Linked DNA regions of Homo sapiens. The protein of the gene in region 4 purifies or fractionates together with the protein of the main gene of each other region. This does not show direct contact. Each region holds a gene or a part of one and is shown on either strand. Other genes may lie near its edges.

What was found.
Region 1: the proteins of NUP54 (region 4) and WDR59 purify together in Homo sapiens (affinity purification with mass spectrometry; 2 studies listed by BioGRID and IntAct, with this or other methods). This does not show direct contact.
Region 2: the proteins of NUP54 (region 4) and CRNN purify together in Homo sapiens (affinity purification with mass spectrometry; 2 studies listed by BioGRID and IntAct, with this or other methods). This does not show direct contact.
Region 3: the proteins of NUP54 (region 4) and LPXN purify together in Homo sapiens (affinity purification with mass spectrometry; 2 studies listed by BioGRID and IntAct, with this or other methods). This does not show direct contact.
Region 5: the proteins of NUP54 (region 4) and CEP250 purify together in Homo sapiens (affinity purification with mass spectrometry; 2 studies listed by BioGRID and IntAct, with this or other methods). This does not show direct contact.
Region 6: the proteins of NUP54 (region 4) and NDE1 purify together in Homo sapiens (affinity purification with mass spectrometry; 2 studies listed by BioGRID and IntAct, with this or other methods). This does not show direct contact.
Region 7: the proteins of NUP54 (region 4) and STPG4 fractionate together in Homo sapiens (co-fractionation; one large-scale study listed by BioGRID). This does not show direct contact.

What each region holds. Positions count from the first base shown.
Region 1 is NC_000016.10:74,974,456-74,979,063, reverse strand, and holds part of WDR59 (GATOR2 complex protein WDR59), read left to right. Parts: intron 1-4,608. UniProt on the Homo sapiens protein: As a component of the GATOR2 complex, functions as an activator of the amino acid-sensing branch of the mTORC1 signaling pathway. The GATOR2 complex indirectly activates mTORC1 through the inhibition of the GATOR1 subcomplex.
Region 2 is NC_000001.11:152,408,238-152,411,866, forward strand, and holds the end of CRNN (cornulin), read right to left. Parts: intron 2,707-3,629; coding exon 1,357-2,706; 3' UTR 1,006-1,356; downstream 1-1,005. UniProt on the Homo sapiens protein: Promotes cell proliferation, G1/S cell cycle progression and induces expression of the cell cycle regulator CCND1. Regulates proliferation induced by pro-inflammatory cytokine response via activation of NFKB1 and PI3K/AKT signaling pathways.
Region 3 is NC_000011.10:58,528,298-58,531,648, reverse strand, and holds part of LPXN (leupaxin), read left to right. Parts: intron 1-1,124; coding exon of another isoform or gene 1,125-1,219; exon of another isoform or gene 1,220-3,076; intron 3,077-3,351. UniProt on the Homo sapiens protein: Transcriptional coactivator for androgen receptor (AR) and serum response factor (SRF). Contributes to the regulation of cell adhesion, spreading and cell migration and acts as a negative regulator in integrin-mediated cell adhesion events.
Region 4 is NC_000004.12:76,141,357-76,145,964, reverse strand, and holds part of NUP54 (nucleoporin p54), read left to right. Parts: exon of another isoform or gene 1-410; intron 411-1,491; coding exon 1,492-1,575; intron 1,576-1,672; coding exon 1,673-1,816; intron 1,817-4,608. UniProt on the Homo sapiens protein: Component of the nuclear pore complex, a complex required for the trafficking across the nuclear membrane.
Region 5 is NC_000020.11:35,458,136-35,462,743, forward strand, and holds part of CEP250 (centrosome-associated protein CEP250), read left to right. Parts: intron 1-168; 5' UTR 169-239; intron 240-1,847; 5' UTR 1,848-1,970; intron 1,971-4,129; 5' UTR 4,130-4,232; coding exon 4,233-4,418; intron 4,419-4,608. UniProt on the Homo sapiens protein: Plays an important role in centrosome cohesion during interphase. Recruits CCDC102B to the proximal ends of centrioles. Maintains centrosome cohesion by forming intercentriolar linkages.
Region 6 is NC_000016.10:15,656,399-15,661,006, forward strand, and holds part of NDE1 (nuclear distribution protein nudE homolog 1), read left to right. Parts: intron 1-4,608. UniProt on the Homo sapiens protein: Required for centrosome duplication and formation and function of the mitotic spindle. Essential for the development of the cerebral cortex.
Region 7 is NC_000002.12:47,148,484-47,153,091, reverse strand, and holds part of STPG4 (protein STPG4), read left to right. Parts: intron 1-75; coding exon 76-135; intron 136-1,576; coding exon 1,577-1,834; intron 1,835-4,608. UniProt on the Homo sapiens protein: Maternal factor that plays a role in epigenetic chromatin reprogramming during early development of the zygote.

The DNA.
Region 1 (4,608 bases), on a different chromosome or scaffold from region 4:
ACAGTTCAGAGTACTGAGAAGTGTGGAGATTAGTTTTCACTCTCAAGGAAAGGTAAGATGCTGGAATGTGCAGTTACAAGGCTAACCTAATGATATTTGCAAAAGTGCTGCAGTGGATGACTCCTGTGTTGAAGAGAAGAACTGCAGACCCACGGTGGCTGCCTACTTCGTGTCTCCACTTCAGGATCTGCGAGAAAATCAAGCTCTGTATGTCCAAAGCAGCTGAACATACTTGGAGACAACTCTTCCCTCACAGTAGCATTTCCTTCTTCCATTTTATCTTCCATATAGCCAGAGTGATTAAAAAAAAAAAATCCAGGTTTATGCAGGTATAATTGTAGAGTTTGTTGGGTTTTGACAAATGGATGTAGTCATGTAACCACTGCCGTAATCATGATGTAGAACGTTTCCATCACTCCAAACAGTTCCTTGGTCCCCCTGTGTACTCAATCTCCATCCCTTATCTCTGGCAGCTGCTGATGGGATTTCTATAACAAATGGAATCATGTGATATGATGTGTAGCCTTTTGAGTCTGGCTTTCATTTTTGTTTTGTTTTGTTTTGTTTTTTGAAGGGACAGAATCTTTCTCAGTTGCCCAGGCTGGAGTGCAGTTGCACAGTCCTTGCTGAGTGCAGCCTCCAGCTCCTGGGCTCAAGTGTCCTCCCATCTCAGCCTCCTGAATAACTGAGTCGACAGGCATATGCCACCAGGCCTGGCTCTTTTTTTTTTTTTTTTTTTTTTTGAGACAGAGTCTCACTCTGTCACCAGGCTGGAGTGCAGTCGCACGATCTCGGCTCACCGTAACCTCTGCCTCCTGAGTTCAAGCGATTCTCTGCCTCAGCCTCCTGAGTAGCTGGGATTACAGGAGCCCATCACCACGCCTGGCTAACCATCTTTGCCAGGCTGGTCTTGAACTCCTGACCTCACGATCCACCCACCTTGGCCTCCCAAAGTGCTGGGATTACAGGCGTGAGCCACTGTGCCTGGCCAGTCCTGGGTAATTTTTAAAAATTTTTTGTGGGGGTGGAATCTGGCTGTTGATGCCCAGGCTGGTCTTGAACTCCTGGCCTCACACAGCCCTCCCACCTTGGCCTCCCAAAGTTTTGGGATTACAGGCATGAGCCACCACCCTACCTGGCGTCTTTTGCTTAGCCTAGTGCTTTTGAGATTCATTCTTGTTGTTGAGCCTATCTGTTAGTGCATTCCTTCTTCTTGCTGAGTAGTGTTCCAGTATATAGACTGCAATTTGTGTATTCATTCACCTGTTTATGGACATTTAGTTTTTTTCCAGTTTTTAGTGACTGAAGAAAGCTGCTATAAGTAGATAAGTATCAAGGCCAATTTTTATTTATTGATTTATTTATTTTTCTTTTTTGAGACAGAATCTTGCTCTGTTATCTACGCTGGAGTGCAGTGGCACGATCTCAGCTCACTGCAAGCTCCGCCTCCCGGGTTCACGCCATTCTCCTGCCTTAGCTTCCCGAGTGGCTGGGACTACATGCGCCCGCCACCACACCCTGCTATTTTTTTGTAGTTTTGGTAGAGATGGAGTTTCACCGTGTTAGTCAGGATGGTCTCGATCTCCTGACATCGTGATCTGCCCGCCTCGGCCTCCCAAAGTGCTGGGATTACAGACGCGAGCCACCGCGCCCGGCTGCATTGTCTCTTTCTTATAGATTAAGAAGAGTGTAAAAATTTTTCTGGATTCCAGTTCTGTATGGTTATATATATTGTAAATCCATTCTCCCAAGTTGTAGCTTGCCTTTTCATTCTTTTTATGGTATTAAAAATTTTTTTTTAATTTAAATTAAAATTTTTTTTTTGAGATGCGATCTCGCTGTTACTGTGGCTGGAGTGCCTATTCACAGTCACGATCATGGTGCACTGCCTCCTTGAACTCCTGGTCTCAAATGATCCTCCTGGTTCTGCCTCCCAAGTAACTGTGTCTGTATTTGTGAGTTACCACTCCCAGCTATGTGCTGTCTTTTGATGAACAGAACTTTAATTTTAATGCAGTTAAATTTATGGATTATGCTTTTTCAGTCTTGTTGTTTTTGTTTTCAGACAGGGTCTCGCAATGTCGCCCAGGCTGGAGTGCCGTGATTTTGAATCAGTGCAACCTCTGCCTCCTGGGCTCAAATGATCCTCCTGCCTTGGCCTCTTAAGTAGTTGGAAATGCAGGCACACACCACCAGGCCGGGCTAATGTTTGTATTTTTTATAGAGCCATGTTGGCCAGGCTGGTCTCGAACTCCTGGGCTCAAATGATCCACCTACCATGGCCTCCCAAATTCTTTTTAAGTCTTCTTAAGAAAAATGTTTAGGCCGGGCTTGGTCGCTCACACCTGTAATCCCAGCACTTTGGGAGGCCAAGGTGGGCGGATCACAAGGTCAGAAGATCGAGACCATCCTGGCTAACACAGTGAAACCCTGTCTCTACTAAAAATACAGAAAATTAGCCAGGTGTGGTGGTGGGCACCTGTAGTCCCAGCTACTCAGGAGGCTGAGGCAGGAGAATCGCTCGAACCCAAAAGGTGGAGGTTCAGGGAGCCAAGATTGCGCCCTTGGACTCCAGCCTGGGCGACAGGGTAAGGCTGCGTCTCAAAAGAAAAAAAAAAAAAAAGAAAAGAAAAAGAAAAACGTTCGTATCCTAGATTCATAAAGAAATTCCTCAATATTTTCTTTTATCTTGAAATTGAAAATGAATCATCTCAGCAGAAAGTATACTCTCTTCTGACCTAATAATGGTTGGTGATTTATTAGTCTCAGCATTGCAACAGCTTTGCCACAAAGATAAAGATTGAGGACTGTGTTTTACTCTAATAAAAACTAAAATAAAAAAGCACAACTCAAATTATTTGGCTAGGAGCAAAATTATAAGTAATTAATAATCTGTGTGTTTTTCTGGAGCAATCCAGCTTCGGTTCCTACTTTTTTAGTTTCATACAATGTTCATTTTGAAAAACTATAGAGATGGAGGGGCAGAATAGGACTTTTTGGTGTAAGTGACTATTAATATGTATACTGTGAAATATTTTTTCTTTTTTAAATAAATTTATATATGTGTATTTTAACATCGAGATGGGGGTCTCACTGTGTTGCCCAGGCTGGTGTCAAACTCCTGAGTTTAAGTGATCCTCCCACCTTAGCCTCCCAAAGTGCTGTGATCACAGGCATGAGCCACTGCACCTGGCCTATTTTTTTTTTCTAGAAAATTTAATATAAAGATGTGGTGATGAATGGGAGAAGAACAAAGACGTTAAGGATTTCGTGCCAGACTGTGTTAAGATTTAGGTTATGCCACCTGTCTTCCATGTGATCTTGGGCAAGTTACTTCCTTTCTAAGCTTCAGTTTTCTTTTTTAAATTTTTTTTTCTTTTTTTTACTTTTTTTTTTTTTGAGACGGAGTTTCACTCTTGTTGCCCAGACTGGAGTGCAGTGGCATGATCTCGGCTCAGTGCATCCTCCACCTCCCAGGTTCAAGCAATTCTCCTGCCTCAGCCTCCCAAGTAGCTGGGATTACAGGCGCCTGCCATCATGTCCGGCTAATTTTTTGTATTTTTAGTAGAGACGGGGTTTTACCATGTTGGCCAGGCTAGTCTCAAACTCCTGACCTTAGGTGATCCACCCGTCTTGGCCTCCCAAAGTGCTGGAATTACAGGCATAAGCCACTGTGCCCAGCCTTGTTTTTTTTTGTTGTTTTTTGAGACAGAGTATTGCTGTCTCCCAGGCTGGAGTGCAGTGGCGCGATATAGGCTCACTGCATTCTCCAACTCCTGGGTTCAAGCGATTCTCCTGTCTCAGCCTCCCGAGTAGCTGGAATTACAGGTGTGTGCTGCCATGCCTGGCTAATTTTTGTATTTTTAGTAGAGACGAGGTATCGCCATGTTGGCCAGGCTGGTCTTGAACTCCTGACCTCAGGTGATCCACCGACCTTGGCATCCCAAGGTGCTGGGATTACAGGTGTGAGCCTCTGCGCCCGACTGACTTCCTTCATTCATAAAACAAGGATAGTAGTGCCTACTTGTGTTGGGGGTTCCCCAGGCCATGCCAGGCTCAGTGACTTATAAGGAGGCTTCACAGTCATATTTGCAGTCATTACATATTACAGCAAAAGGACACAATGCAGAATCAAAGGGAAAAGGCAAATGGCATGAGGTCAGAAGGAAACCAGGCCGAAGCTTCCCAGAGTCCCCTCACTGTAGACGCACACAGTATATGCTTAATTCCTTTCGTGTGTAACTGGAACAATGTGTGAGAGACATTGTGTACCAAGGAAGTTCATTAGGGACTCAGTACCCACAATTTCTATTTAGGGCTGGTCATGTAGGCACCGTCTGCCTTAACAGGTACCAAAATTCCAGACCTTCAGAAGGAAAGTAGGCACTCAGCGTAAACTACGTCGTTTGTACATACAGTTGAGGCACAGGGAGGCTCTCTTACTAGTTAAGGAGCAGTGGAACCCTCCTAAAATCCACGTTCTAGATAGCAGCCAAGAGCCACCCTTGCAAGCAGGCCTCGCAAGGATAGTAGTAGCCTCATGCCCGCTGTGCCAACTCTTTTCTGCATACTACCTTGTAGACTAGCTGTGAGGATTAAATGACAATA
Region 2 (3,629 bases), on a different chromosome or scaffold from region 4:
ATTTTGTCTTGGGAAATCTTTCAGATTATCTAGTCTTCTGTACTGACAAAAGCACAAGACCCCCAAGAAGTTTCTAAACAATATTAATTGGCTCCAAACCTTAGAACCAGCATCTGTAGGGTTAGGTTTATACATTTTTTTTTTTTTGAGATGGAGTCTTGCTCTGTTGCCCAGGCTGGAGTGCAGTGGCACAATCTCGGCTCACTACAACCTCTGCCTCCTGGGTTCAAGCAATTCTCCTGCCTCAGCCTCCTGAGTAACTGGGATTACAGGCATGTGCCACCATGCCCAGCTAATTTTTATATTTTTAGTGGAGGTGGGGTTTCACCTTGTTGGCCAGGCTGGTCTTGAACTCCTGGCCTCAGGTGATCCGCCCACCTAGGCCTCCCAAAATGCAGGGATTACAGGTGTGAGCCACCACGCCCGTCCCTATAAATCTTTATTTTAAAACTGTTCTTCTGGTCACTCTTAAAATAAACCAGAATTGATAGTCTCTACCCCATAACATGGTTTATATCTGGTGGGTGAGACATCATGAGAGGTCAGAGCTGACACTGAGGGGGAGGTAGGAAGGGAAGCACAAAATTCTGGCCCCTGGCTCAGTACCTGGTAACACAAGCTTTCTCGCTCTTTCCCTACACAGCCACTGGGGGCCTTCTTCCATTTCTTGGTAATCTTAAATCAGCTTTCCTGTGTGACCTTACAGGTGAATAGCGGTTTAACGCTATAGAATTAGAGGTAGTGAAAGACCAAGAGGAATTTTGCCTATCTATCTAAATACTAATTGTCTTTTCAGGGCCATCATAAAGAAAGCGCCTTTTGTATGAAACCTTTGCTGGTCCATCTCTGCCAAGTATTAAGTATGATATATAGCAGGAATCTCATATAATATTTTCTCAACTAGTTGCTCTTCAAAGGTAGGGACTATGTCCAGTTCATCATCTCATAACTCTACAGCCTTTGGCCTGTAATATCAATAGAAGGTGGTTGAATGAGACACAGAGGCCAGTGGCTTAAGGTTTTATTGATGCATTAGGGTAGATGGGGCAATAGAGAGATGTCAGAGATAAAAATAGTCCTGAAACCCCCCACAAGATGAGGACAATTCAGTACAAAGGGGTGACTTGCTCTGAGTCTTCCTGCTCCTGAGAGGGTCTGCACCGCAAAGCAGGTAAGAAAGAAGAGTTCAGGATAGAAAGCTCCTTGCAGAAATTATCTCATTGAGAAAGACCTAAAAGGGAAGCTGCATAATGAAGAGCTGATGTCCAGGGATGCACCCACTGGATTGGCCATGCAGGACAAGCCAAACTCTCTCCAGCTGTCTTCTTCCAGTACTGGACATTGGAGTCGGGGAAGTCATGGCTTGGTGCTTCTCAAGTAGGAATACAGCTCTCTAGCTGTGATGCCTCGCTTCTCTTCTGACTGGGCTGCATCCTGGCCCTGTGCTGAGGAAACACTGGTATGCAAGTTGCCCTGGTCCAGCCTGAGGATCACTGTCTCCCTTGAGTGGTCATCAACCCATTCCTCACCAACCACTGTGGGCTGTCTGTCTCCCTGCCCTTCTGTCACACAGCGCCTTGGGTGAGTGCTGCTCCACTCCTGCCTTCCTGACTCAGTGCTTGCCCCAGTCTGGGCCTGTCCTCCCGGTACTGTCTCTCCTGCCTCAGGGTTGCTCACTTGCATCCATCTTTGACCACTGCCTGGCTGCGTCTGGGTCTGTCCCTGTTCTCTAGCCCCTCCGTGGCTTACAGTTTGGCTTCTGTCCTGCTCCACAGTCTCGGTGTGTGACCCTGCCTGTATCTGAGTGTGTCCTCCTGTCACAGCCTGGCTGGTCTGGCTCCTGCCTTGACCGTGGATCTCAGTCCCTCTGTTCTGGCCATTGGTGGACTCCTGTGTCTGGGTGCTGGTGCTTCCTGTCTGGTGGCTGCTGTCCTGCTCCACGGTCTGGGTGGGTGTCTGGGTGTGTGTCCCTGCCTGTATCTGAGCATGTCCTCCTGTCACAGCCTGGCTGGTCTGGCTCCTGCCTTGACCGTGGGTCTCAGTCCCTCTGTTCTGGTCATTGGTGGCCTCCTGTGTCTGCTTGCTGGTTCTTCCTGTCTGGTGGCTGCTGTCCTGCTCCACAGTCTGGGTGGCACCTGCCTGGGTCTGAGTTCCAGATCCAGTCACAGTCTCACCTGTCTGGTGGGCTCTGTCCTGTTCCCTGGTCTGTGGCTGTCTCTCTGGCCTCATCTCTGTTGTCTGATTCCTCTTGCCTTCTCCAGCTTTCTGGGTCTGCTCTGTCTGCCCAGAGAGTTGTATCTGCGGGCTTATTCTTTCCTGGCTCTGGGACTCAGCTTGCCTGTCATAGCTGCTGACCCACGCAGAGCCAGTGGCCTGACCCTGGGTCTGAACCCCAGGCCTGTTCTGCCCTCTGGAACCCTGCTGGCTCTGTCTGTGGCTGCTCCCCTCATAATGCTGCCCTTTCCCCGCCCTTCCCACTTCAGTGCCACTTCTCTGTCCTTCGCCCAGCTCCTGCGAGGCCCCAGAGTGGAGGCTTCCAGACTCTTGAGAGCCGCAGGCTCCCTCAGCACTCTCGCTCAGTGTCTTGAAACAGGCCTGGGCAACTTTAAACACTAAGACCAGGAATTCCTTGAATTCCACAGTCCCTGTGTGGTCTTCATCCAGCAGACGCAGGACCTCATCCACAGTTGCTGGATCGTGGGGTTTCTGAGGAGAAGATGAGGTGGAGTCAGCATCCCTCCCCTGAGGAGGACATGGGCAGGTCCCTTCCAATCTGCTGCCAGCTTCCCCTGCCTCAGACCCCACACTACACACACATACGGCTAGAGCAGCAGCAAGACTTAATTGCCTTTATTTTTTTTTAGTCCCGTCTCTCTCCCTCAAGTGTAGAGAGCATTTTTTGTTTGGTAGCCTCTATTTGGCACAATTTCTGGGCTACAGGAAAATTAGATAAAGATTTATTGAAGAGTTAATAAATTATTGAATTCACAATGCAACTGTTTGGGCTCTCAAGTTGACTGTCTGGGCTGCCCTTGGCACCTTGCCCCTGGCACTGAGGCCTTAGTCTCTTCAGCAGGCCCAGCACAAAGAGCAGCAGGTTGGGAACACAGCCCCATGGGAATTCTGTGCGCTCCTCATTGAGGCCCAGATGTTTCCCCATGATAAAGAGGGAGGGAAGCAGTGGGCCCCTGCAGCGCTGCCCTGAGCATGTGGATGCAGCATCCTTCTGTGCCCATATGTCCTTGTCCCTAAGGCCATCATCATCCTGGTTGCTTTAGATGCAAACCAAAGACAGGAAAGTGCATCAAGGCCTTGGTTCTGGTTTGCCAGGTGGGGTGGGGTGAGGCTCCAAAGTCTCCCCCTAGCTATTAACAACCTGCTCTTCAAAATTTCATTTCTGATGTGATCAGTCTGCTAATATTTTTGAGTAACTGCTTCGTGCAAGCCCAGAGCTATGCTTCTAATGAATGTCTATGAATGGATGATTACATTTCAGATAGACGTGGGAAATATTTACTGTATCAAATTTAAGAGGCGGCAGAAAGCAGCAATTATTTTCATTTTGAAATATTCCAAGGCTCTGCTCCTGTCTGAGTTGTCCTTTTAGAGCCCTTTTACCTTGTCTTTAA
Region 3 (3,351 bases), on a different chromosome or scaffold from region 4:
TGGATAATATCCTGAAGAGTGTTTTTCAGCTTGGTTCCATTCTCCCCATAACTTTCAGGTACACCAGTCAAACGTAGATTTGTTTTTTTCACATAGTCCCATATTTCTTGGAGGCTTTATTCATTCCTTTTCATTCTTTTTTCTCTAATCTTGTCCTCTTGCTTTATTTCATTAAGTTGACCTTCAATCTCTTATATCCTTTCTTCTGCTTGATCAATTCAGCTATTGATACTTGTGTATGCTTCACAAAGTTCTTGTGCTATATTTTTCAGCTCCATCAGGTCATGTATGTTCTTCTCTAAACTGGTTATTCTAGTTAGCAATTTGTCTAACCTGTTTTCAAGGTTCTTAGCTTCCTTGCATTGGGTTAGAACATGCTCCTTTATAAAGCTCGGAGGAGTTTGTTATTACCCACCTTCTGAAGCCTACTTCTATCAGTTCGTCAGACTCATTCTTCATCCAGTTTTGTTCCCTTGGTGTTGAGGAGTTGTGATCCTTTGGAGAAGAGGCATTCTGGTTTTTGGGATTTTCACCCTTTTTGCATTGGTTTCTCCCCATCTTCTTGAGTGTTTCTACGTTTGGTCTTTGAAGTTGGTGACCTTCAGATGGAGTGTCTGAGTGGATGTCCTTTCTGTTGATGTTGATGCTATTCCTTTCTGTTTGTTAGTTTTCCTTCTAACAGTCAGGCTCCTCTGCTACAAGTCCACGGGAGTTTGCTGGAGGTCGACTCCAGACCCTGTTTGCCTGGGTATTAGCAGCAGAGGCTGCAGAACAGCAAAGATTGCTGCCTGTTCCTTCCTTTGGAAGCTTCATCCCAGCAGGGCACCCACCAGATGCCAGCCAGAGCTCTCCTGTATGAGGTGTCAGTTAGCCCCTATTGGGAGGTGTCTCCCAATCAGGAGACACGGGGGCCACAGACCCACTCAAGGAGGCAGTCTGACCCTTAGCAGAGCTCGAACCCTGTGCTGGGAGATCCACTGCTCTCTTCAGAGCTGTCAGGCAGGGATGTTTAAGTCTACTGAAGCTGTGCCCACAGCCACCCCTTCCCCTGGGTGCTCTGTCCCAGGGAGATGGGGGTTTTATCTATAAGCCCCTGACTGGAGCTGCTGCCTTTTTCTTTTCAGAGATGGCCTGCCCAGAAAAGAGGAATCTAGAGAGGCAGTCTAGCCACAGCAGCCTTGCTGAGCTGCGGTTGGCTCCACCCAGTTTGATCTTCTGAGTGGCTTTGTTTACACTGTGAAGGTAAAACCACCTGCTCAAGCCTCAGCAATGGTGGATGCTTCTCCCTCCACCAAATTCTAGTATCCCAGGTCGAGCTCAGACTGCTGTGCTGGCAGTAAGAATTTCAAGCCAGTGGATCTTAGCTTGCTGGGCTCCATGGGGGTGGGACCTACCGAGCCAGGCCACTTGGCTCCCTGGCTTAAGCCCCCTTTCCAGGGGAGTGAACAGTTCTGTCTCGCTGGCATTCCAGGTGCATCTAGGTTATGAAAAACAAAAAACAAAAAAACTTCTAAAGCTAGCTCAGTGTTTGCCCATACAGCCGCCCAGTTTTGTGCTTGAAACCCAGGGCCCTGGTGGCGTAGGCACAAGAGGGAATCTCCAGGTCTGCGGTTTGTGAAGACTATGGGAAAAGCACAGTATCTGGGCCGGAGTGCACTGTTCCTCACGGCACAGTTTCTAATGGCTTCTCTTTGTTAGGAGAGGGAGTTCCCTGACCCCTTGTGCTTTCTGGGTGAGGCAACACCCCACCCTTTTTCGGCTTGCCCTCAATGGGCTGCACCCACTGTCCGATCAGTCTCAATGAGATGAACCGGTTACCTCAGTTGGAAATGCAGAAATCACCTGCCTTCTGCATCGATCTCACTGGAAGCTGCAGACCTGAGCTGTTCCTATTCGGTCATCCTGCCAGCAATCTCCAAATTATTTATTTTATTGCTCATGTCATCAGTTTGATATACAGTTAATTTTCTTCAATTTGATTCAATTTTTTAGGGATTCATGTTTTTCCATTTTAATTTTTTTACTTTTTTTTTTTTTTTTTGAGACAGAGTCTCACTATCTCCCAGGCTGGAGTGCAGTGGTGCGATCTCGGCTCACTGCAAGCTCTGCCTCCCGGGTTTACGCCATTCTCCTGCCTCAGCCTCCCAAGTAGCTGGGACTACAGGCGCTCGCCACCACACCTGGCTAATTTTTTGTATTTTTAGTAGAGACGGGGTTTCACCGTGTTAGCCAGGATGGTCTCGATCTCCTGACCTCGTGATCCACCCGCCTCGGCCTCCCAAAGTGCTGGGATTACAGGTGCAAGCCACCGTGCCCGGCCAATTTTTTCACTTTTTAATTATGTACAACAATAGTTGAAACCATACATATACTCAGGAGTGGAATATAATTAGCAAATATTTTCTTCAGATTGTTATTTGTCTTTGTTTATGGTGATTTTTTGACATGTGTAAGTCATTCAGATATATTTTTATGTAGCTAAATTTATTAATATTTAACTTGCTTTTGGAATTTGGGCTTTATTTATGACAGTTTTTCTGTTTCCAGATTAAAGAGGAATACATCATTAATGACAAGATATGAAATGCAAATGCACACATTAAAAAAACCCTAAGTATCATTAGCCTTTCGGGAAATACAAATCAAAACTACCATGAGATAACATTGTATAGATAGATAACATCCATTTGATTGATTAAAAAGGAAATATATGGATATATCAAGTGATGTAAAGACTGAGGAATAATTGGGATTTTCATACACTGCTGGTAAACAATAAAAATAATATACCCACACAAAAAATAAAAAAAGGAGGAATACATCTATTTTTAATTCAAATATATGGTATGAGTCATTGTGTTTAGATCTTGCATCCATCTGGAAATTATTATTTAGTAGTATTTTATTTTAAAATATCAGATGCTTTTTTTCTTCCCAGATGCTGTTTTAGATATTAGAGATATAATGGTGACAAGATCAACAATATCTAGTTTCTCTCAGAGCTAATGTTCCTGTAAGGGGAGACAGCCCACAAAGATGATTTTAAATAAAGGTAAATGCCATAAAGACGGTGAAAGAAGATGATGTGACAAGGAGGGACTGAAGAGATGCCTCTCTGATAAGATGATATTTGAGTGATTCTTGCATCACATGAAGAGGACAACTATATCAGGCTCTGGGACAGAACTATCCAAGCCAAGGGAATACTTAGTACAAAGGCACTGAGGAGCAATAGCCCCTAACACTTATTAAATGTTTACTATGAACCAGACACAATGCCAAAACACTTCCTCTGCATTATCTCATTTATTTCTTACAACTACCCTTTGAATTAGGTAACAGTAATCATCC
Region 4 (4,608 bases):
AATGTTTATAGTTTGCAGTACTGCAGTAGAACCTACAAGTAAATAGAATATTTAGTTGTGCCTGCATGCAACATGCAGCTTACTCTTGAGTAGTTTTCCAAATCAGAATGAGGTGATTAATATAAAATGGTTGCATGTTTTTCTTCTTGTATTTTCTATATTGCAATATTGATGAATCTGTGTTGTATACCAGAAATAAATGAGATTAAAGGAAGATTCCAAAAAATCTGCAATATAATTCGACACTAATGGTTCAAACATTTGTCTTGAAAGGCTTTTTGATACCACATTGGTAATCAGCTGAAGACTGACAATAAGTTACAAAAATAACAAAACAATTTTAGATTGGCTAGCATTCCATTTATCTGTCAAATCTCTTCCTTCAAGAAACACATTCTTGTTGTTTGGAGGTAAGTATATTGGTATGCTTCCTTTGAAAAGTTACTTAGTCTTGACAGAGACTAAGTAGAAATATAAGTTAATTTAGACATAAATTAATTCACCAAAACCAAGGTTGCTAACTGGCAACAAGTCTGCCAATGTGATATGTTTGGCATGCTGTTTTCAAAACATTTGAATTCCTTGCAAAAAAAAGTAGTTGAATTAGGGTTTAAAAACCAATAAATTTTTTTTTTTTTTTTTTTTTTGAGACGGAGTCTCACCCTGTCGCCCGGGCTGGAGTACAGTGGCAAGATCTTGGCTCACTGCAAGCTCCACCTCCCGGGTCCACGCCATTCTCCTGCCTCAGCCTCCTGAGTAGCTGGGACTACAGGCGCCCGCCGCCACGCCCGGCTAATTTTTTGTATTTTTAGTAGACACGGGGTTTCACCGTGTTAGCCAGGATGGTCTCGATCTCCTGACCTTGTGATCCACCCCCCTCGGCCTCCCAAAGTGCTGGGATTACAGGCATGAGCCACCGCGCCCAGCCAAAAACCAATAAATTTTACATAGAAAATCCAGATTTCCTGTTTCTCTTGGGGTAAAAAATGGGAATATGTGACACTGCTAAACTACCTTTCTTGTATCTGCTGGAATTTAGGAACTGCTGATCTAAAAAACTATTCATTTTAAACAGTTCCACCTATCAGTAAACACATAGTCTACTTTACTCTTTACTGTTATCAGTCTAAATCTTCTAGGCATATGAATTTGCAACACCTCCTCTAAAAGTACATACATAGTCATTTTAGAATTATGGCAATAGGCTTAATGTGTTTTCTCAGCTGTAACTGTTAACCACCCCTTTAATTGAAGGGTATATATTACATTGTGATATTTCTATTTTAAATGCTTAGTTCATTTCTTGTAACATTTTGACTTCTTGATTGGTAGTATAGTTTTTTAAAAAATTGATCTTGAAAGTAGGGAAAGGAAAAATTAGATCAATATATTTTGATTTTATATGTAGCAATTATAAAATAATTTTAAAAAGAAGTTGCCTTTATATATACAAAAGATTCTTCCTTTCTATTTTTGTTCTTTTTTAATTAGGTGGGTTTGGAGGATTTGGGACAACATCTACAACTGCAGGTTCTGCATTCAGCTTTTCTGCCCCAACTAACACAGGCACTACTGGTAAGAGGCCATCTTAAGTCATTCATAGAAGTAAATGAAGTAGAGGTCAGATTTTTTTTTTTTTTTAACTTACGAAGTTCCAATTTTTCATTCAAAGGACTCTTTGGTGGTACTCAGAACAAAGGTTTTGGATTTGGTACTGGTTTTGGCACAACAACGGGAACTAGTACTGGTTTAGGTACTGGTTTGGGAACTGGACTGGGATTTGGAGGATTTAATACACAGCAGCAGCAGCAAACTAGTAAGTATGAGGTTTTCAGCTTCAAATACAAAACCGTGATGATACTAGCTGACATTATTGAGTGCATTCAGAATACTTTAGTGGACTTTTTATAAGAATTATTAATATATTCCAAAGGATTAGGAATGTTACTTTTCATGTTTAAATATGATAGCAACTGGGGAGAACACTGATTGGCACAGTTAGGATTATAAGGTCCCTGTGTTTAGGATCATTCCATTTAAATTTTTGTTGTTAAAAATAACAAATAGAGAAACTGCACAAAAGTACAGCTTAATGAATTATATATAAGTTTACAAAGGTTAACACCCTTGTAATCACTGCCCATGTCAGGAGATGGTTCCTGGCCAGCCAGTTCAGAAGCCTACCACATTTCCCTACCAATTGCTTCCCCATCAGAGGACCTGCAGTCTTGGCTTTTATGGTGATCATTTTCTTACTTTATATTTTGTCATTCAAGTATGTAAACAGTATTTGGTTTTGCCTGTCTTAAATCTCCATAGGCTCCTCTTTTATCTCTCTTTTTTATTTATTTTTTATTTTTTGAGACGGAGTCTTGCTCTGTCGCCCAGGCTGGAGTGCAGTGGCACGACCTCGGCTCACTGCAACCTCCGCCTCCCAGGTTCAAGCGATACTTCTGCCTCAGCCTCCTGAGTAGCTGGGACTACAGGCGCACACCACCACGCCCAGCTAATTTTTGTATTTTTAGTAGAGACGGAGTTTTACCATATTGGCCAGGCTGGTCTGGAACTCCTGACCTCGTGATCTGCCTGCCTCGGCCTCCCAAAGTGCTGGGATTACAGGTGTGCGCCACCGCGCCTGGCCTCTCTTTTTTATTTTTTAATTTGTTGAAGAAAACAGATCATTTATCCTATAGAGTTTTTTAGTCAAGACTTTTCTGATTGCACGCCTATGGTATAGTTTAACACATTCCTTTGTTCTCTGTATTTCTTGATGATTGGGTTAGATCTGGGGCGTACATATATATATTTTGTTGTTTTGTTGTTTGTTTGCAAGACTATTTTATAGGCCTATTTTTTATCAGAAGACATATAATATCTTTTTTTTTTGAGTGATCAGCCATTGAGCCATTGGTGATCATTACCTAGATCCATTAATTCATTAGGGGTTACAAATAGTGCCATTCCACCTGGATTCATTTATTTGTTGAAATACTTCTGTGAGGAGAAACTTGACTTCATCTGTTTGGTTGATTCTTTCTCTTTATTACTGGTTTTCAGAATAAAGAGTTGGTTATCTAGCATTCTCCAAAGATGACCAATTTTTTTTTAATGTCAGAAACTGCAGCCTTTAAACTAGTTACTATTTTTTAATCCATTGCAGTTACCATTCTTATTGATGCTTAAATTGTTACATCTTTGGCCAGTGCAAGCCTTTTCAAGTTGGCTCCCAAGTCCCTTTGAGACAGTCTGGTTATTAGTCTTTGATGGCTTCCTTACTAACCATCCTTACTAGGTGGTATGGCAGTAGGTTCCAGGGGTTGTTCTGTATGGATTAACTTATTCTCACAAGAACCCTGTGAAATAATACTTTTGTTATCCCCATTTTATGGGTGAAGAGAGGAACCTGAGAGATTGTGACTTACCTGTATACCTCTCTAGAAGAAGTACAGGGATGCAAATTCAACTACTCATTCTAGTGCTCTTTTCACTTTTCCAATCTGATGCCTCTTAAAATTACTTCTGTTTCATTTTTTTAAGTAACTTGATTGACTAGCTAAAATTCATCCTACTCAGTCACTGAAGATTAGTTATTAACTTATTAAACATGAATTTCAAGGATTGCCTAACAGTAGGATGAAGATAATAGAATAGTATTCTCAGAATTATTCTTTCAAGTATTCCAGTCATTCGTCTTTTCTACAATCCTGCAAAAATACAAAATTTGATGAAATATTTAAGTAGTTAAGGAAAGAACAGCAAAAGTGAAGTGTTTCCTTTGTTTCTTGAAATAAAGTCTCTCCAACTATGAGTAACTGTAGTTACATTTGGTTTTTTTAGGAAAATGGGAATTTGAATCTGGTGCTATTTTAAAATTGAAAGGGGCTCATTTTGTTATGTAATATCCATTTATTGTATATATCGTATGTCAGGCATTGGGTGTACAAGGTTGAAGACCACAATCCTTGCTCATAGTCAAGGAGATTCTAGGGTATCCACGCAGAGGAAATAACATGGCATGGTTTATGGCAGAGTATAATGCCTTTGGGACCAGTATAACTAGATCAGTGCAGTTTTTTTAATGCATAAATGACCTCAGGGTCAGTAGTGAGAGTTGGAGAGATAGATATGAATTGGATTATTAGCGTGCCTTATATGTTTTACTAAGGAGCTGTCCTTTAAGCAATTCTAAACTGTTGTAGGATTAAGTAGACAGGAAAATAATCAGATTTTTAGAAGTATCTCTTAGAGAAATACAAAGATAGATTATAGGTGGGTTGGAATGGAGGCAGAGATCTGGTGAAGCTGTTGCCAAAATCTGAGCAAGATATAGTGAAGACCTGAATTAAGGCAGTGACAGTTAAGAATGGAGAGAAAAAACAGGATGTGAATTTGAGAGAGATTTAACTTGTAGAATCAATAAAAGCGAATGACTGGATAAAGGTATCTTGGGCTTCTGGGTGGCGTAACTGAAGGATCCCTTGCTCTTCACTAAGATCCAGAATACTAAAGCAAGAGCAGATGTTTGTGGGTAGATAATGAGTTTGAGGTGTCCCTTGGGTAGTTGTATATATTTATGAAAGCCATCAGAACGTAAGTAGTATTTAAAGT
Region 5 (4,608 bases), on a different chromosome or scaffold from region 4:
ATACCATTCTGCATCTTAGTCCTTGTAGCATTTATGCCTCTATTCCAAGTTTAGGTGGTAGTGTTGCTTCTCTTTTAAACTTTATTTAAATACTCCTTTTGTAGTATTTTGGATGAGAGAGGATCAAATACATAATTTATCTCACTCTTCTGTCACTTTCCACTCCAGGTTCACAGGTGGCTGTTGGTCTTTAGTAAGGGTGCTGTCTTCCCTGTCTGATCCTTAGCAAAAGTAGGAAGGTAGGTCTTGTTCATTTCTGTACCACTGTGGCAGACTCCTGATACTGAGTTGAAATTCATGAGTGTTTATGGGATAAATTAATGTACAAAAGAAATGAATCTTTCCCTTTTTCCTGCAGTAATGATAACATTGGCTCAGTGGTTTACAGCTTAGAAGTACACTGACACTCATTATCTTATTTAGATGTAATCCAATTTGTTAGTTTGCCAGCTACTGCTCTTTTCCCTTTCTCAGGCACATTGAAATTTACTTTCCCTTTGGGGGCTCTGCTAGTTTATTCCTAGCAGATCTGATCTGGCAGTGTGTTTGTAAAAGGATGCTGAACTGTGTCTTGAGGAAGCTCAGAATGAAATCTGAATTTCAGAAAGATTCCTGAGATAATTTTTCTCTGTCTCTTCTCTTTTATTCTTGTTTTAATAAATTTTAGTTTTATGAGGATTGTTTTGGTTTTAAAAAACTTTAAATCATTTTTTAAAACTATTTTTTACAACAATTTTAGGGTTACAGAAAAATTGCATAGTACAGAGAGTTCCTGTATACCTTGCACCCAGTCTCCCCTTTTAGTATGGTATATTTGCTATAATGCAAATCTTTTTTTTTTTTTTTTTTTTTTTTTTTTGAGATGGAGCCTTGCTCTTGTCGCCCAGGCTGGACAGTGTTGGCCAGGCTGGTCTCGAACTCCTGACCTCAAGTGATCCGCCTGCCTCAGCCTCCCAAAGTGCTGGGATTACAGGTGTGAGCCACTGTGCCTGGCCATGCAAATCATTTTTTGAGATAAGTGGGGCATATAAAAATATAAACAAAATGAAGTTGCTTTATCTCTACAAGCCTCAGTTTCCTTATCTGCAAGATGAGGGGGGTGGACTAAATTTCTAAATAGCTTTAAAATTTTTTAATTATCTGCTAAAGTAAAATAATTATATAATTGTAATATAATTTTCTTTATTTGCTTAAGTATTACTAATACCACCTTGCCAAATCATGTTTGCAAGTTACTGACAGCCATATCCTAAAAGAAAACTTAATGAGAATTCATGGAACTATGTGTGGCAGGACTGCTTATTAGAGATATTAGGTTGAATGATGTGAAATTGCCATTTTTGTAGATAAAAAGTAATGAGTGAGGCTGGGCTTGGTGGCTCACACCTATAATGCCATTGCTTTGGGAGGCTTGGACCAGGGGGTGGCTGTCTGAAACCAGGAGTTCGAGACAAGCTTAGGCAACATGGCAAAACCTTGTCTCTACCAAAGAAAAAAAAAAAAAGCCTCGGTGGCACACATCTTCAGCTCCTCTGAAGGGTGAGGCTGGAGGATCCCTTCAGCCCAGGAATTTGAGGCTGCGGTGAGCTATGATTGCACCACTGTACTCCAGCCTGGGTGACAGAGCTAGATCCTTTCTCTAAAAATAATAATAATAATAGGATAATATTAGCAATTTCATATGGTTCAACCTAATGTTTTGGGATAGGGATTCAACAAAGTGTGAGGGGGCCTTTGAGACCTCATAAACTCCCACTGCATGCAAAAGCCCGGCTCAGCCCTCACCATACTAGGAGAGAAAAGGCTCCTCAGTTCCCTTGGAGTAACTTGGATCTACATTATTGTAGGTAGAGTTGTTGGCAGAAATCCTGGGATAAGAGAATAGTTTCCTGGAAGATCTGTGCCTCCAACCAGCAGAGAGGGATTGAGCTTCATTGAACTCAACAGAGCCAACATTTCATAGCACCATGGTGAGTTGGTCACACAGCCTTGGCAAAAAGGCTGAAAAGGAGGGTGTAATAGTATGGGGAAAGGTTGTATTCCCCTGGTTCGTAGGCTAGGAAGAGGCCTGGAGTACTGGTGCCACCAAACCTTTATTGGTGCCATTCTATTCTCCCTACTTTATGCACTTTCCTTACTGCCTAGTACAGGCTCTGCAAACTCAAGTATCTTCGGTTGTTCAGGAGGTAATGTAAATTAGTAAGCCGAGTTTTCCTCTTTAATGCTACTATAACAGAAACAATAGCACAGTTGCAATGATAAATGACAACTGAAATATGCTATCATTGTGAGGGAGAGAATCGGTGTGTGCATAGGGGAGGCCATGATGAACTGGAGAGCACATGCCCTGTCTAAAGGGGGCAGGCACTATACAACTGTGCAGAGCACACGCCCTGTCTAAAGGAGACAGGCGCTGTTCAACTGCACGGAGCGCGTGCCCTGTCTAAACGGGCAGGCACTATTCAACTGTGCAGCTGGTTGTTGCCTTATTGAAATATGGGTCAAGCATCACTGGGTATTCTGATTTTCCAAAGGAGCCAGAAATATGGATTTTATGTACATTCTCCCAATGATAAATGTTGGCACCTAATTTGAATTCTTAAAAACTATTATGTGGGCCACACAATGGCTGAAAAGAGCTAGCAGGGCACTGATTTGTCATCTCTGGCTTATGGCTTAGCTCTGCCAGGAGTGAGGCTCACATGCATTTCTTCACTGGACATTGTTGACAAGTTACAATTAAAATGAATTAGACAGCTCCTGCCTTTGAGGTACTCATGGATTAGCAGAGAAAATAGACAAGTAATGATGATAAGATGTAGAGTAGACATCAGAACATATGTATTCTCTCTGTGTATATAGCTATAAAAGTGACTAACTCTTCCTGGGTTCATCTGGGAGGACATGATAGGACGTGGCATTTGAGCCAGGATGTGGGAAATCAATAGTTTGGTGCATTAAAGGGATTTGGGGCCCTTGAAATTTCTACTGTATGTGCAAATGTTAGGTTTGCATTCGCTGTATATACCATTTTGTTGATAGGTAGTTGAAAATACGGATATTCCTTAGCCCTGCTGGTGAGAGTCTTAGGGTTAATAAAATGAGAGAACTCTTCCTCTGGCCCAGGTTATGGGATAATTGTGTGTTTTAGAGGCCTAAGTAACTCAGAGGTCATGATACCCTCATTTCTGGATGAGGGAAGTAGCACATCTGAGGTCACAGAGCCCATTGGAGGCAGAGCTTGGACTAACACCCAGAACTCTTTACCACCATGCCTTCCCCTGTCCTGGGTATCTCTGATGAAGGTCACCGTTAGGCTGGCCGCCTCTGCCTGTGGTGGCCCATTGCCCTGTTTTGGCCCAGCTCCTGGTGGGTGAGGGGGTTTGGCCATCCTGCTGCCACTGGTTCCTTCTCTCTTTTGGATCCTTTGCCTGAAATGCCTGCTACCCCTTTTCTTTGTCAGATAGACTACTTGTGTTCAAATCTCTCTCAACCATATGCCAGCTGTGTGGCCTGGCACAAGTTTTTTAACCTTTCTAAGCCCCAGTTTCCTCATCTATATATAAAGAGTTATAATAGTACGTTTGGTGAAGTGTAATGAGAAGGCATTGGAAGGTTTCAAGATTTTTGTAAAAACAAAATGACGTAATGCATGTAAAGCACTTAAAGCAACAGCCCTCCAGAAGCACTCAGCAAGTGTTAACAATGATGATGATGATTCACACAGTTCACAGGCTCCCAGGCTGGGTTCTCTTCCTTTGTTTTCTCATATTATCTTATTATTTCACATGCTACATTGTATGTATTGTAATAGTTTGTGTCTATTTCCCCTGCTAGACTAAGAACACCTTCAGCGATTCATTCAACAAATGTTTCTGAACCACTGTGCCAGGAACTAAGGATGCAGTGATAAACCAGGAGCTCTTGGTTTAGTGCAGAGTTCCAAAAGTCATGCCAGGAGACACTAGTCCTGTGAGCTTGTCTCATGGTCAGTTAAATTTGGGGAATGATGCTCATCATAGCGCCCTTCAGAGATGAGGGTCCCTTTTAGTATTTTAAAGGTTCTGAGGAGTCTTGTGTGTAGTAAAAGAACAGTCCTTTCCATTTGACTATGTGCTTTGGTCCCCAGTTCAAGAGGAGGTTGAAGTGGCATGGCAATGGTTAGAGACCCTGCTGGGCGTGAACACCCTCTGGCTACCTAGGGACCTGTGGGCCTACCACCTGGTGCCCTCATGGAGACAAGAAGCCCTGGGTTGAACAACATGAAGCCCCAGTCACTGCAGCTGGTACTGGAAGAGCAGGTGCTGGCACTACAGCAGCAGATGGCAGAGAATCAGGCAGCCTCCTGGCGGAAGCTGAAGAACTCCCAGGAGGCCCAGCAGAGACAAGCAACCCTTGTGAGGAAGCTGCAGGCCAAGGTGAGGCAGCTGCCCTTTTGGGGAGGGGAAAGAGAACAACCCCCAGAGCTAGGTGCTGAGGTGAGATAAGGGTTGCAGGAGGCAGAGTCTTGTGGTGGGAGTGGCCTACATCTAGCATGGTGAGATAAGACCCAGACCTTCTAGCTTTCATGTACAGCTTCTCTTTTGATGCTCACAACTGCTCCATGAG
Region 6 (4,608 bases), on a different chromosome or scaffold from region 4:
ATTAGAACCTGCCCCACAATAGACGCACCTCCTAAAGCATCTCAGATTCATTTCTTTCCTGAGGATTAAGTTTTTAAACCTTCCTGGCCAAGATAACAGTGTTTTAAGAGGCTCTTTTCTTTTATTATTATTATTATTATTATTACTCTTTTCTTTTTTTGAGATGGAGTCTTGCTCTGTCACCCAGGCTGGAGTGCAGTGGCAGGATCTCTGCTCACTGGAACCTCCACCTCCCGGGTTCAAGAGTTTCTTCTGTTTCAGCCTCCTGAGTAGATGGGATTACAGGCATGTGCCACCATGCCCAGCTAATTTTTGTATTTTTAGCAGAGATGGGGTTTTACCATGTTGGCCAGGCTGGTCTCGAACTCCTGGCTTCAAGTGATCTACCCGCTGTGGCCTCCCAAAGTATCAGGATTACAGGCATGAGCCACAGCACCCTGCCAGGCTTGGGTGTTCAAGGAAGAGAAAGAAGGCAGTGTGGCTGGGACATAAGTGAATGAGAGGTGGTAGGGTAAGAAATGTGTAGAAAACTATGCAGGGGCCTGATCACATTGGATCTTGCACATCTTTTTCCAAACCTCAGGAGGAGTCATTCTGCTTTTGTTGTTACTGGTTCCTCACTTCCGCACTTTATTGTATGCTGACAACCTTCCATACCATGGGACTGAGACTGCCCTCAATAGTATCACCAATGTCTTTTTTTGTTTTTTTTTTTTGAGGCAGAGTTTCACTCTTGTCGTCCAGGTTGGAGTGCAATGGCGTGATCTTGGCTCACTGCAACCTCCGCCTCCTGGGTTCAAGCGATTTTCCTGCCTCAGTCTTCCGAGTAGCTGGGGTTACAGGAGCCTGCCACCACACCTGGCTAATTTCTTGTATTTTTAGTGGAAATGGAGTTTCACCATGTTGGCCAGGCTGGTCTTGAACTCCTGACCTCAGGTGAACCACCCGCCTTGGCTTCCCAAAGTGTTGGGATTACAGGCATGAGCCAACGCACCCAGCCACCAATATCTTAATGGCCACACAGTGCTCATTGATAGATGCCTTGGCCCTGGGCTATTGTTGCTATAGAATTGGTTTGATGAGTACATATTACATGAGATCTGGGCTCATTAGAGCTTATGGCTTGAGCAGGGACTCCTTGGCCTAGGTTTATGCTGCTCCTGGCCTTGTTAATGACTGCTATTAACACTCTACCCCCTTTTTATTTTTTTGAGATGGGGTCTTGTTCTGTCGCCCAGGCTGGGAGGCTGGAATGCAGTGATCTTGGCTCACTGCAGCCTCCGCTTCTCAGGCTTAAGTGATTTTTCCTGCTTCATCCTTCTGAGTAGCTGGGACTACAGGCACGCACCGCCGTGCCCGTTTGATTTTTGTTTTTGTTTTTTTAGTAGACACGGGGTTTCACCATGTTGCCCAGGCTGGTCTCAAACTCCTGACCTCAAGTGATCTGTCTGCCTCGGCCTCACAAAGGGCTGGGATTACAGGCATGAGCCATTGCGCCAGGCACCACTCTACCCTTTTGACTTTGAGCAAGTAAGGTCGTTGATTCCATACATTCATTAAGATTCCTGCGTGGCAGAAATCTAACCCCAACTGGTATAACCAAGACAAGGAATTGATTATCTCATAACCTTAAATCAGGTGTGGCTGCATCTAGGTGTTCAAATGATATTGTCAGGACCCAGGCTCTCCATCCCTTGGCCCAGCTTTCCTCTGTTTTGGCTTCACTCTGAGGCAGGCTCTCCCTTGTGATAGCAAGATGACCACCGGCAGTTTCAGGCTTACCTCCGGCTTCAGGCTTACCTCCAGCTTCAGGCTTACCTTACCAACCCTAGTGGAAAGAGAGTTTCATTTTTGACAGCTATGCAAAAGGTCTGGACCTGGGCCCTCACTGGCTTAGTATGGGTTAGGCCCATCCTTAAGCCAATCATTGGCTCAGCATGGGTTAGATCCGTGACTGTCACTGGCTGAGCATGGGGGTTAGGCTCACCCTATCATTGGCTCTGCGTGAATTAGGCCCACCTCTGTCACTGGCTCATCGTGGGTTAGGCCCACCCATGAGCTGATCACTAAGGTCGTGAATAGGCATATGCCTCTTCCCAGGTGTGGAGGATGATGTCAGATCCCTCTGAACTCATGAAATGAGTAGGGTATTCTCCCAAGGGAATATTGTGCTGTCACAGAAGATGGAAAAATGAATGCATGTCTGGAAAAAACAAGCAAAACTACAAATCATTAGCTTTATATGACATTTATTTATTTTTTGTTTATATGTTTTTGAAATGGAGTCTTGCTCTGTTGCCCAGGCTGGAGTGCAGTGGTGTGATCGTGGTTCACTGCAACCTCTGGCTCCCGGGTTCAAGCGATTCTCATGCCTTAGCCTCCCGAGTAGTTGGGATCATAGGTGCCTGCCACCACACCCAGCTAATTTTTGTGCTTTTAGTGTAGACAGGATTTTACCATGTTGGCCAAGCTTGTCTTGAACTCTTGACCTCAAGTCATCTGCCTGCCTCAGCTTCCCAAAGTGTTGAGATTACAGGCATGAGCCACCACGTCTGGCCAGCTTTGTATGACATTTCGCCTTTCTGCCTTGATCAAACTTTCAGAGAATCTGCTTTCCAGAGGGATGAGTGGGTCGGGAAATAGCATGTTTTCTCTGAATGAGGGAAAGGATTGAAAAAGTAGGAGGGAGAAAGGATGTGAATATGAGTCCCAACAAATGCAGAGTTATCGGTAAGTTTTGTGCTTGAATCTAGGTACAATTGTGCATTTCCTGGTTCTGCATGAATTAGGCCCACCTCTGTCATTGGCTCAACATGGGTGAGGCTCACTAACTTCCACCAGAAGTTAGTGGTGGTGTCTGTGTTGACACTTACATGTTTAGCCTAATGATTTCATGTTTTAACCAAAACTATATAGCTTGTTGGTTATATCTTAGAAAGTGATGGTTTTTGCTCATTCTTTTGTCCCCAGGGATACACACCAGCCTCTAAGTTCTCTTGAGGGAAGGAAGGGACCTTGCACACAATCTTTTTTTTTTTTTTTTTTTTTTTTTTTTTGAGAGGAAGTCTCACTCTGTCACCCAGGCTGGAGTGCAGTGGTGCGATCTCGGCTCACTACAACCTCTGCCTTCTGGGTTCAAGTGATTCTCCCGCCTCAGCCTCCCGAGTAGTGGGGATTACAGGCGCACACCACCATGCCCGGCTAATTTTTATATTTTTAGTAGAGATGGGGTTTCAGTGTGTTGGCCAGGCTGGTTTCAGACTCCTGAGCTCAGGTGATTCACCTGCCCTGGCCTCCCAAAGTACTGGGATTACAGGTGTGAGCCACTGCGCCCGGCCTTGGACACAATCTTTTTTTTTTTTTTTTTTGAGACGGAGTCTCGCTCTGTCACTCAGGCTGGAGTGCAGTGGCACGATCTCAGCTCATTGCAACCTCCACCTCCTGGGTTCAAGCAATTCTCCTGCCTTAGCCGCCTGAGTAGCTGGGACTACAGGTACCTGCCACTGCGCCCGCCTAATTTTTGTATTTTTAGTAGAGATGGGGTTTCACCATATTGGCCAGGCTGGTCTCAAACTCCTGACCTTGTGATCTGCCCGCCTCGGCCTCCCAAAGTGCTGGGATTACAGATGCGAGCCACTGAGTCTGGCCTGGACACAATCTTACTTGGATTCCTCATGCCCTTTTGACAAGCTCAGAGCCTCAAATAAATTCAGAAAATAGGTGATTACATCAAACAGCCTCTATCAACAGGGAGTATACAAACCGTTAGCCCAACTGTTAATAGAAGTCTGCTTTCTTGCTGGGTGTGGTGGCTCACACCTAGAATCCTAGTGCTTTGGGAGTACAAGGCAGGAGGATCGCTTGAGCCCAGGAATTTGAGACCAGCCTAGGCAACATAGTAAGACCCCATCTCTTAAAAAAAAAATTAGCTTGGCGTAGTGGCCTATACCTGTAGTCCCAGCTAGTCAGGAGGCTGAGGCAGGAGGATCAGTGCCGCCTAGGAGTTCAAAGATGCAGTGAGCTATGATTGTGTCACTGCACTCCAGCTGGGTTGACAGATTGAGACCCTATCTCTTAAAAAAAAAATTGCTTCCCTCACCTCTGCTGTGAAACAGCTCAAAGTCCTGAGAGCCAAGGCCCCTACCGCCCACATCCTCTAGCTGTTGGCTAATTTATTTCATCGTCTTTTAGGTAATTCTCCAGAATTCCATCGCTTTCCTCTTTTTCACCTCCCAGTTACTCCTGCACTCAGTTCTTCGTCTTTCCTCCTCCACTGTGTAGAAACTGTTCTTGCTCACACCGCCAGTGACCGACTTTCGCTCAGCCTTGTGGATATTTTCCAGCCCTTATCTTCCCTGCTTCTCTGTTGCATCCTTGTGACACTGGAATGTTTCCCTTTTTTCCCTTGAAACCGCCCACTCCCAGGACAGCACAGTCTTCCTGATTCTCATCTCTCTCACTCTGTTTCTTCTCTGCCTCCTTCGGTTACCATTTCTTAAACTGCCCACCTTTCCAATATTGGCATTCTTCACTGTTCCATACACAGTCCCTAGGCGATTCTTCCATGGTCACGAGGAAAAGAGAAAAACCAGCTATAGACGCATGACT
Region 7 (4,608 bases), on a different chromosome or scaffold from region 4:
AATGTTTTATAAATTATATTTAATTTCAAGGGATCACCTCTCAAATGAATAAGCATACTTTGTGTTTGTTAACAGAAACCAGCCCAAAAGACTTCCTCTTTTGAAAGAGAAGGATGGTGGAGAATAGCATTAACAGTATGTACATTGTTCAGTCTTTCCTATTCACATTATTCCTATTCCATTAATATTTTAATCAATTATAGCTTTTAAGACTAACACTAAATTGTAAGAAAACAGTGATTGTTCAGATCTGCATGGACCTCATGTCATACTTAAAATTTTAGTGTCAGCATATGAATAAGAAACTAACTTTTAATTTTGAATGCAATAGAAGCTTGGGAAAGTTAAACAATTCTAGAAATCTAGGTGCTTTACAGAATATCTAGATAAGGCTAACCTATGCTCTTATGATCTGGGTGAGATTGCAAAACAAAAAAAGCATACATTCTGGAAAGGTGTTTTGGTTTCAGTTTTTATCTTATATGGTAAAGACCTTCTGCAAATGGTTCTTAATATGGTCAATATATGAAAGCAAAATGGTAATATATGGAAGAAAAATGACCAGAAGATCCCCCTCACCAGAGAGTTTCTATATTACAGACATATTTTCTGTCAATGCCCTTCAATAATAGAGGGACTTCATGGGTCAAAGCCTTCTTGGAATTGCAGTAATTTTAAAGGCAGAACTGAGCTGAGTGCTCAGTGGAAAGATGGCCACAAAAGCAGCAGTGACTAAACGTTCAATTCTGGCCATTCAGCCACACTGGTTGTAATTTGAAAGTACCAAACCTCTTATTGGACTAACTAGGCCATATGCTCTGCCAGTTTATCCTGGTGTCATGTCATTATCCTTCAGCTTCCCACTTGAGGGCTAGAGAGAAACATCCTACATTGGCTAAGCAGATGTAGGATAGCTTCTAGTTAGCCAAGAGACTATCCTGAGTGGTCTCACTAGAGGTCTGAAATTCATAGTCAAGCTTGAATCCCAAAGTTGAATCACCGAAGTTGCCTTTTAAAAACTTAAATTTCGGCCGGGCCTGGTGGCTCACGCCTGTAATCCCAGCACTTTGGGATGCCAAGGCGGGCGGATCACAAGGTCAGGAGATCTAGACCATCCTGGCTAACACAGTGAAACCCTGTCTCTACTAAAAATACAAAAAAAAAAAAAAAAACAAAACAAAAAACTAGCCGGGCGTAGTGGCTGATGCCTGTAGTCCCAGCTACTTGGGAGGCTGAGGCAGGAGAATGGCATGAACCTGGGAGGCGGAGCTTGCAGTGAGCCTAGATTGTGCCACTGCACTCCAGCCTGGGTGACAGAGTGGGACTCTGTCTCAAAAAAAAAAAAAAGTTAAATTTCAACTCTAACCCGTTTGCTTTAATTCAGCAATTATTTCAGAAAGGAAATAATCATGATTTTGAAATACTCTTCTGTCAAGAGTGTTTACTGTATTTGATATAATTTCATTAAACTTGAAAACAAAGAGAGATGTTACTTGGGAGCTTCCCATCCAAGAATGGTGTTTTAGGAGAAGTTACATGTTTACACAATCTTAAAACTGATGTCAATTTTCCACAGGATACTCCTATACCTGGCACTTACCACTTGAAAACTTTTATTGAAGAATCCCTATTAAATCCAGTGATAGCAACCTACAATTTTAAAAACGAAGGAAGGAAAAAGCCACCTCTTGTGCAAAGAAACAATCCAGTCCTAAATGATCTTCCGCAGTATATGCCTCCTGACTTCCTGGACCTGTTAAAGAAGCAAGTGGCTACTTACTCATTCAAAGACAAACCACGGCCAAGCCCCAGCACACTAGTTGACAAAGATCAGGTAAAGCGCTACTGGCAGATTGCTTTGTGTGGGAAAGCTACTAAGAGCCCCTGAGGAAAGTATTTTTATACGTAGAGTATATCTTCCCCCAGGAGAAATGGAAAACCTTTAAGATGTCTTATTTCCCGTAGAAATCAAACAAGGACTGCCTGATTTGCAAATGTTTCCAGTAAGATTTTTCCCTATAACATCTTCTTAACCTAAGGGGAGTACATGGGGAGAAATGTTTTCCTCTTGGGCAACTCTTGGTGGGATTCCCCTAGCCTGGAGAGCACCTGGGATCTTATCTGTCATTGGGCTATGCTCTTATCTCTTCAAGCAGTATATGTGGTGAACCCTCTTCTTTTAAAGAGAAAACCCTGCCTCTCGGGGAGTATCCTTATTAGAGCATAAATATAACTACATACCACAGGGAAGCTTTTAAAAACTTTTCTTATAGAAATGACCCATCTCTACAAAAAATAAAGAAAAATAGCCGGGTGTAGTAGTGCATGCCTGTGGTCCCAACTACTCTGGAAGCTGAGGTGGGAGGATCACTTGAGGCCAGGTGTTGTAGATCAGCCCGGGCAATATAACAAGCCCTCAACTCTTTAAAAAAAAAAAAAAAATAGCTACTTGGGAAGCCAGGGCAGGAGGATCCCTTGAGCCTGGGAGTTTGAGGCTGCAGTGAGCTATGATTATATGACTGTACCCCAGCCTGGGTGACAGAGTGACATGCTGTCTCTAAAAATATTTTTTTTAATTAAAAAAAAAAAGAAAAGAAGTGAGCATGTGGTCCCAGGAGGGTCAGCTTCTACTCTCAGCTCCACCAGTTCATTTGTAGCATTGATAATAAAGAGCACTACTGAGCTCACAGCCCTGCACTAGGCTCTGCGGAAGGAAGATGTTCCTGACCCAGAGGTATTTAAGCAACAATACAGGACAGAGTTTATCAAGTGCTCAGATAAATAGTGGAGCTGGAAATGCCAAAGGAGAGTTCAAGTGCCAAAGGAGGCTGGATTAAAAGGCTGGAAAGCTCCGTGGCTTACGTAGAACTTAACTGGACCTTCACTAATACATGTCTTTTATGTGGCTCTTAATGGTTTACTATGGGCTTCCATGTATATTCTCTTAGTTGCTTCCTTCTTAAGCATTCTGAAATAGAACAGATATTAACTCCATTTTACATGCAAGAAAACTAAGGTGAGTAGAGACTAAATAACTTGTCCAAAGGCACATTGCTAATACTTAAGTAGGTGAAGCAGCACTTTTTACTGAGGGCTTCTGCACCAAAATTTAGTCCTCTTTCCAGTCTACCATGTGCCCCTCGCCTTGAATGAGGGGCAGGGTTTGGGTAGATGGAATCCAAAGGAGGTATTCCGAGGGAGGAGTACAGCATTGTTGAAGGCATGGAAGTGGCAGGAACGTGGTCTGTTCAAGGGATAAGAGTTGTGACTTGGACTTTGTTACTTGGGACTTTGGGTACTTGTCTCAGTTCTCTCTGCATTAATATTTCCCATTTATAAATAAGCTAATAACAGTATCAATCTTCATAACTTCATCAGAATATTATTGTGATAACCTGAGAGAAATGTATTGCAGCTGAAGGTTGAATTAAGTACAAGGGGTTGTAATTACTAAAGTGGACACAAAATTTTCAGCAGGATGAACACATGTCAAATCCAAACTTTCTACTACTTTACAAATTGTAGCTTTGAAACAGAACAGAATGATAAGTGTTCATTAGGTATATCTTATCCTGTTTGCTTCAGTGGATGCATACAAACTCTAAATTATACTAGCACCTTTATGGCTTGCTACCAGATAACCAGGCTATGTGTGAAATTGTTCTGGCTATCTCAAATGCAAAGTCTTTCTTACTCTCTTCTGCCATTTTCTTTTCTGCTTCCTCTCTTCTCGCTTTTACAAGTCCCTGAAAATCAGCCAAAGGCCCAGTGTTGAAAGGAGAAAACGTACAAGGATGGAGTTACACAATACTTAAAGTTTTTAAAGACCAAAAGAATTAGGCTTACTCGGAAGGATGGATAAAACCTTCTGAAAACATAGTTTTTCTGTTTCTTTCTTCTTTCCTCTCCACCTCCCACAAAGGATTAAACTCTAGAAACTGGAAAAATTCAGTGTTTTTCTAATTTTCTATTTCAAAGATATATATATTCACAAGGGGAAACATAAACATTGTTTAGTCACCAGTAAAATTCAAAATTCTGTTTTAATAGCAGAACTCAGAATACTTTGAATTTGGGGTAGATATAGTATGTATTATTGTTATACATTAAGCTAGAATAGCATTCTCAAATTTTATAATTTTTCACAGAATATTCATTTTATATCTTTCAGTGGCTGCTTTTTATTTGTAATAAAGTTTTCAGGAATACTATGCAGCCATAAAAAAGGATGAGTTCATGTCTTTTGTAGGGACATGGATGAAGCTGGAAACCATCATTCTCAGTAAACTATCGCAAGGACAAAAAACCAAACACCACATGTTCTCACTCATAGGTGGGAACTGAACAATGAGAACACTTGGACACAGGAAGGGGAACATCACACACAGGAGCCTGTCGTGGAGTTGGGGGAGTGGAGAGGGATAGCATTAGGAGATATACCTAATGTAAATGACGAGTTCACGGGTGCAGCACACCAACATGGCACATGTATACATATGTAACAAACCTGCACATTGTGCACATGTACCCTAGAACTTAAAGTATAATAATATAAATAAATAAATAAATAAAGTTTTCACTATTTTTAGTATCTTTATTCTGAGGCAT